Homo sapiens: one gene and its partner. The protein of the gene in region 1 interacts with the protein of each later gene in a pairwise test. Each region holds a gene or a part of one and is shown on either strand. Other genes may lie near its edges. The genes, in order: ABCD1 and SLC25A17.

Evidence for each region.
Region 2: the proteins of ABCD1 (region 1) and SLC25A17 come close enough for resonance energy transfer, tested with the Homo sapiens proteins (one large-scale study listed by BioGRID).

What each region holds. Positions count from the first base shown.
Region 1 is NC_000023.11:153,727,757-153,731,570, reverse strand, and holds part of ABCD1 (ATP-binding cassette sub-family D member 1), read right to left. Parts: intron 2,340-3,814; coding exon 2,159-2,339; intron 1-2,158. UniProt on the Homo sapiens protein: ATP-dependent transporter of the ATP-binding cassette (ABC) family involved in the transport of very long chain fatty acid (VLCFA)-CoA from the cytosol to the peroxisome lumen.
Region 2 is NC_000022.11:40,774,242-40,778,055, reverse strand, and holds part of SLC25A17 (peroxisomal membrane protein PMP34), read left to right. Parts: intron 1-682; coding exon 683-828; intron 829-920; coding exon 921-1,016; intron 1,017-3,814.

The DNA of each region.
Region 1 (3,814 bases):
GAGTCAGGCAATATCTGAAAAGCTAATAGCTGAGAATCTTCCAGAATGATTGAAAAACTCAAATATTCAAAGGACATATAACAAGTCTCAAGCAGAATCAACAAAAACTGACACCTAAACATGTCATAGTGAAACTGCAGAATGCCAAAAAGAAAGAAAGTGATCAAAGTACCCAGAAAAAAAGAAACACAGGGTACTCAGGGAGGACAATTTGTTAGCAGCTACAGATTTGTCAGCAGCTACAGAAGAAGCAGGGAGACAATGAGACATTGTGAAAGGGCTGAGAGAAAAGAACAGTCCACCTAGACTCCATTGCGCAACTCAACTTTAGCTTGGGAATAAGGGTGAAATAGAAACATTTTCAACAAAAATAATCAAGAATGACAACAGCCTGGGTGTGGTGGCTCACGTCTGTAATCCCAGCACTTTGAGAGGCTAATGCGGGAGGACCGCTTGAGCCCAGGAGTTCCACACTAGCCTGGGCAACACAGCGAGAACCTGCCTCTACAAAAAACAAACAAACAAACAAAAAACTAAACAACACAAAGAATTACAATAAAATAATCAAGAATTTCCCATGACAAAACCCTTGCTGAAAGAACCTTTTTTAAAAACCAACCACAACTAGAAGCACTGATGACTGTTTGTCCTGAGCATAGTTGTGAGTTAAAAAACAAACAAACAAAAAACTAAAAACATGTCTATCTGGAGGAAGATAACAGAACATAGAAGAGAAATTGAGATGTAGGAACGAAATGGTGAGCACAGAACTCAGCAAACATGCGAGTGAGTTTCAACACGTGTGGATAAGGCGATAGCAAAGAGGAAAAACTAGGTACAAATCCAACTCTTGGCTGGGCTATGATGCCATGCCCCACGGGGCTGCTTCTGCGTTCTAAGGTCCAGGAGAAGGCGGAGCTATTGATTAACCTAACAAGTATGCGTGTTGATCTTTTATTTTTTATTTTTATTTTTATTTGAGACGAAGTCTCGTTCTTTCGCCCAGGCTGGAGTGCAGTGGCGCTATCTGGGCTCACTGCCAGCTCCGCCTCCCGGGTTCACGCCATTCTTCTGCCTCAGCGTCCCGAGTAGCTGGGACTATAGGCGCCCGCCACCGCGCCCGGCTAAATTTTTGTATTTTTAGTAGAGATGGGGTTTCACCCTGTTAGCCAGGATGGTCTCGACCTCCTGACCTCGTGATCTGCCCGCCTCACCCTCCCAAAGTGCTGGGATGCCAGGCGGGAGCCCCCGCGCCCGGCTGCGTGTTGACCTTTTAAAGGGTGACCACTAATGGACTAAAAATCAAATGCAGAAGTTGCAATCCGGCAGAGGAACAAAACAGGAATGCAGGCCGGGCGCGGCAGCTCACACCTGTAATCCCAGCACTTTGGGAGGCTGAGGCGGGAGGATCACCTGACCAGGAGTTCGAGACCAGTCTGGGCAACATGGCGAAACCCTGTCTCTACCAAAAATATTAAAATTAGCCAGGTACGGCGGCTTGTGCCTGTAGTCCCAGCGACTGGGGAGACTGAAGTGGGAGGACCACTTGAGCCTGGGAAGTTGAGGCTGCAGTGAGCCAAGGTCGCGCCACTGCACTCCAGCCTGGGCGACAGTCAGACTCCTGTTTCAAAAGCCAAAAAGAAAATAAAACAAACAAACAAAAACAACAGGAATGCAGAAACCTAAACATTTAATCTTATCACTAAAATAACAGGTAGAACAGGCTTCCCACTCCTCTAAAACACCTTAGGGTGCAAGAGCTGTTTCAGGGCGAGGAAACCAAGGCTGGAGTGATGAAGGGGCTCACTCCAGGTACTCCGCACATTCTCCCACCTCTAAGTCGCAGTTGGGTTGAGGACAGGGACAGGTGGGTGAGGGTATCTGTGCCTGGAGAAGTGACATGTAGTGTTCCTGACTTGCAGTCCTGGGCTTGTCTGAGTGGTAACAAAGGGCGTGAGGTGCGCGCAGGGCAAAAGGCAACAAGGAGGGGCAAGGCGAGCTCAACCTCTGAAAGCATCAAGGCTGGCAGCAGGGCCTCGGTGGCCCCGGCAGCAGAAGTGGGCGGCGGGCTGGCTGAGTTGGGCCCTCGTGAGCTCAGCACCCAGCGGTATGGGGGACAGGCCCCTGGCCTGGATCCTCTTGGAGCCCTGGGTCTCACCTGACTCTGAGTAGCCAGTGGCAGTGATGATGGGGACAGCCACCATGAGCAGGCCCGAGGCGCTCCACACATACTTCATGAGGAACTGCTCCAGCATAACATACCACAGGCGTTCCAGAAGGATGAGGTTGATCTGCGAGGCCAGGTCCTGGTAGGAGCGCTGTAGCAGGGCCAGCTCCACCTGCGGGGGGTGACAGACACAGAGAGGCTTCCTGGCCATGCACAGGGGCAGCTCCCGTGGGGGCGATGGTCAGGGTCTCCCAGTGCCACTCACACACGCTGTGCCATGGTGGCCATCAGAAGGCCGAGAGCCAGAGGTTACGATTGGGTGGGGCCAGGTCTCAAACTCAAGGTGTAAGGGGGTATAAGGGACTGGCTGATGTCACAGTGCGGCTCCCGTCCCCTCTCCACTCCCTCTCTAGTCACCTTGTTTCTGTCCTCTGCTGAGCCCATTTCTTTGGGCTCCCTGCCAGCCCCCTCCTCCTGGCTCGGAGAGATCATCCATCAGCTCTAATTTCCCCCCCTAAACTAAGCAAAGAGCAGCGCAGGACAGCAAAAGGCAGTGCTCTTGGGCTGAGTGCAGTAGCTCACACCTGCAATCCCAGCACTTTGAGAGGCTGAGGTGGGAGGATTGCCTGAGCCCAGGAGTTGGAGACCAGCCTGGCCAACACGGCGAGATGCTGTCTCTACCAAAAATAATTAAAAAAAAAAATTAGCCAGGTGTGGTGGCACACACCTGTAGTCCCAGCTACTCGGGAGGCTGAGGTGGGAGGATCGCGGGAGCCCTGGAGTTTGAAGCTGCAGTGATGGCGCCACTGCACCCCAGCCTGGGCAGCACAGTGAAACCCTGTCTCTTGGTTCTGAAAAACTCGGTTCAACAGTCTGGGCCTATTTACGCCCTCTTTCCCCTCAACTTTCCCACACTTCCTTTTGGTGAGAAATTTGCATGGCATTTTCCCACTGAAACCAGGAGGATGCGCTCCTGAGCTGGGCCCTACAGGACTCGCCCCAGTGGATGTCCCCACTGCTGAGCCTGGACCTTGCTCCCTCAGCAGTGGGTAGGCCTCCCCTGTCCTTCTGTCCCCCTTCCTGCACTGGCCACCACTATGTCAGGACACCAGCAGGTGGGGAAAGGGACAGCCGCAGGGAAGAGGTGGCAGCAGCAGTCAGACAGGCGGGGGAGATGGGAGGTGTTGGGAAGTGCTCCCAGCAAGGTAGCCAAGGGGTTGTGAATTTCTGGGCTCAGTCCAGGGGCACGCACCCCAGCCTTGCCTCCCCACAGCCGTCTGATGACAGCTGCCTAGCCTGCCACTGTTTGCCAAGTGCTTTCACGTCTCTGCATTTGATTCTCCCCACATCCCACTGCATGTGTATTCACGTGCCCACTGTACACAGAACACTGAAGCCCAGGGAGGCAAAGTGACCTGCCCAAGCCCATACAGCCTGATGGTGGCAACCAGTGTGGGAATTTGGACCACACTGGCAGAGCTGCCAGAAGAACCACATTCTTGTAAATGATGCTTAGACTTATCAAGAGAGCTTTACTTTGTTCTCAAACAAGAGATCGTGTGCATGTGCGTTTCAATAAGCCTCCTCGCGGCAATCCCAGAAAGGACAGAATACTCTGCTATGTGCCCTCCAGCCAGTCAGCTGCTT
Region 2 (3,814 bases), on another chromosome or scaffold:
ATAATAAATTCTAGGAAACGATCTTATCTTTTCTTGTGCTGGACTTTTTTGTGAAATATGTGGGCTCAGTTCACAGTTCTGTGTAATCCAGAATTCCCAGTGATGGTGATAATGACTTAGGAGGATTCGATCATCAGGAACAGTTGCCTGTGATTGAAGTTGGTCTCTCAATAACTTGGTGACTGTCAATGTCTGATTATCAAAAAGTAATTAACCGATAAACTTGACCCCAAACTATCATTGCAAGAAAGAAATCTTTTTTTTTTTTTTTTTGGAAATGGAGTCTTGCTCTGTCACCCAGGCTGGAGTGCAGTGGCACAATCTTGGCTCACTGCAACCTCTGCCTCCCGGGTTCAAGCAATTCTCCTGCCTCAGCCCCCCAAGTAGCTGAGATTACAGGTATGCACCGCCACACCTAGCTAATTTTTGTATTTTTAGTAGAGACAGGGTTTCACCATGCTGGCTGGGCTGGTCTCAAACTCCTGACCTCGTGATCCACCCGCCTCGGCCTCCCAAAGTGCTGGGACTACAGGCGTGAGCCATTGCAACCGGCTGCAAGAAGGAAATCTTTATAGAACCAGTATGGTTTGTGTTCTGGGTACATTTCAACAGAATTCATGTTGTCTTCTCTAGTTGGGGGATTGTGATCATGCTTTTCAAAAGTCCCTGATTTCTTGCTTAGATGCTTTTCATCAGATCATTCGCGATGAAGGAATCTCGGCTTTATGGAATGGCACATTTCCCTCATTGCTGTTGGTCTTCAATCCTGCCATCCAGTTCATGTTTTATGAAGGTTTAAAACGGCAGCTTTTAAAGAAACGGATGAAGGTAATCCTTGATTTTGAAAGCAGTAAAATAATTCTGTCTGACACCTTCTTGTTGACTTGATTGATATGGTTTGTTCTTCCTTTGCTTTCCAGCTTTCTTCCTTGGATGTGTTCATCATTGGTGCAGTAGCCAAAGCGATTGCCACCACGGTGACCTATCCCCTGCAGACGGTACAGTCAATTCTGAGGGTGAGTGCTGGAGTTCTCTTCGCATTTAGTCAAACAGCATTCGAATACATGTAGTCTCTTGATTTAAAACAATGTTAATAAAGCAATAAAGCAGTTAGTTGGTATACCAGAATATTCCCTATCTGTTTTTTTTCTTTTCTTTTTTTGAGACAGGATCTCCCTCTGTCACCCAGGTTGGAGTACCGTGGTGCACCATGGGTCTCTATACCCTCGACCTCCTAGGTTCAAGCAGTCCTCCTGCCTCAGCTGCCCAAGTAGCTGAGACTACATACACCACCTTGTCCAGCTAATTTAAAATTTTTTTGTGTGAAGATGGGGTCTCACCATGTTTTCCAGGCTTGTCTCAAAGTCCTGGACTCAAGCGATCCTCCCACCTTGGCCTTCCAAAGTGCTGGGATTATAGGCATGAACCATTGTGCCTGGCCCCCATTTTTTCATTTGTTTGATATTCTGCTTAACTAGGCTGGCTGTCATTGGTTTAGAATGAAGTTTGCATTTGTAATTTCTTAGGTAACATAATGTCTCAGAAAACACAGATGTGGAGACAAGTTCCTTAAAGACCTCAGGAAAGCATAAGTTTGCTTCCTTCTCATTCAAGTTGATTGGTTTGGTGCCCCAGCAGGGATTATCCTTTACAAAGTCAGAGGTTAATTCCTTTAGTTCACTCAGGAGGAATGAATGATTTAGCTTTTTTGAAGCACTCTCAAACTTCTGTTTTTTATTTCATTCAGTTATTTATCCATTCAAATATTTACTAAGCATCCACACTGTGGGAGGACCTGGGCATGCAGTGGTAAATAAAAGTCATAATCCCTGCCCTTATGGAGCTAGTGGAAGAGAGAATGAACAGGTAAACAAGCAAAATAAATAGGTAATTACAAATTGAAAAAAGAACTATAAAGGAAATTATTTACTGGAGAGGGGCATGGTGGGGCTCTTCTTAGATAGCATGATTGGAGGTGGGCTTCTTTGAGAAGGAATATTTAAATCAAGATGCAAAGGAGGGTAAGGCCCTAGTGGGGCAGAGTGGACGAAAGTGCATTCCAGGCAGGGGGAGCATGATGTGTGTGTTAGTCCATTCTCATGCTGCTCTAAAGGACTGCCTGAGACTGGGTAATTTATAAAGGAAAGAGGTTTAATTGACTCACATTTCAGCATGGCTGGGGGGCCTCAGGAAACTTACAATCATGGTGGAAGGGGAAGCAAACATGTCCTTCTTCACATGGCGGCAGCAAGGACAAGTGCAGGGGGAACTCCTCCTATAAAACCATCAGATCGGTTGGGCGCGGTGGCTCACGCCTGTAATCCCAGCACTTTGGGAGGCCGAGGCGGGTGGATCATGAGGTCAGGAGATCGAGACCATCCTGGCTAACAAGGTGAAACCCCGTCTCTACTAAAAATACAAAAAATTAGCCGGGCGCGGTGGCGGGCGCCTGTAGTCCCAGCTACTCGGGAGGCTGAGGCAGGAGAATGGCGTGAACCCGGGAAGCGGAGCTTGCAGTGAGCCGAGATTGCGCCACTGCAGTCCGCAGTCCGGCCTGGGCGACAGAGCGAGACTCCGTCTCAAAAAAAAAAAAAAAAAAAAAAAAAAAAAAAAAAAAAACCATCAGATCTCATGAGACTTATTCACTACCACAAGAACAGTATAGGGGAAACCACCCCCATGATTTAGTTATCTCCACCTGGCCCTGCCCTTGACTTGTGGGGATTATTACAATTCAAGGTGAGATTTGGATGGGGACACAGCCAAACCATATCAATGTACTAAGAATTTGGTGTATCCTAGGGACTGAAAGAAGGCCTCTATGGCAGTAGAGTGGCTCAGGGTGAGATTGCAAGAGCAGCAGGGAAACTGTAGGTGAGGAATGTAGATTTTTATCCTCAGCACTTTAAGCTGAGAATATGTGATGGGAAGGGCTTTAAGCTGGGGAATATGTGCTGTGATTTACAATTGAAGAAGACTGTTGTGGCTATTATGTGGTGAATTGGTCAGAAAGCTAAGAGAGAAAGCCAGGGGCAATCTAGTAGGAGGCCATTTCAGTAATACAGGCAAGAGAGGATGGTGGCCTGGACCACGGTGGTGGCACTGGAGAGGAGAGGGGTAGGATGAGGACAGATTCAAGATCTGTTTTGGAGAAAAATTTCAAAAGGCTTGTTGCTAGATAAAATAGGGGTGGTAGTGAGAATATTCCAGTTCAGAAAAATTAGTACCTTCTGTTAAAAGCATTTTTACTAATATATTATTTTAAAATTGGTACTTAACATAAGGGAATTCAGTAGCATCCTTATAAATGTATTTTAACACTTTTATAATGTAAACACATAATCTGAAGAGCTTAGACTGCAGATGTTCTAAATGATTCATTTCTCAGAATTTCTTAAAGAAGTGGAAGTTATTACCATCAATATCTAAATCATCATCCTGGGCATATTTTTTTCTTTTGAGGTAGAATTTTCCCTATACCTCTCTATAAAATGAAAATTATTATGCTTGCTTCATTGAAAAATTTTTCTTAGGCCGGACATGGTGGCTCATGCCTGTAATCCCAGAACTTCGGGAGGCCGAGGTGGGTGGATCATTTGAGGTCAGGAATTCGAGACCAGCCTGGCCAACATGGTGAAACCACATCTCTGCTAAAAATACAAAAATTAGCCGGGCGTGGTGGTACATGTCTATAATCCCAACTACTCGGGAGGCTGAGGCAGGAGAATCACTTGAACCTGGGAGGTGGAGGTTGCAGTGAGCCAAAATTGTGCCATTGCACTCCAGCCTGGGTGACAGAGTGAGAAGATGTCTC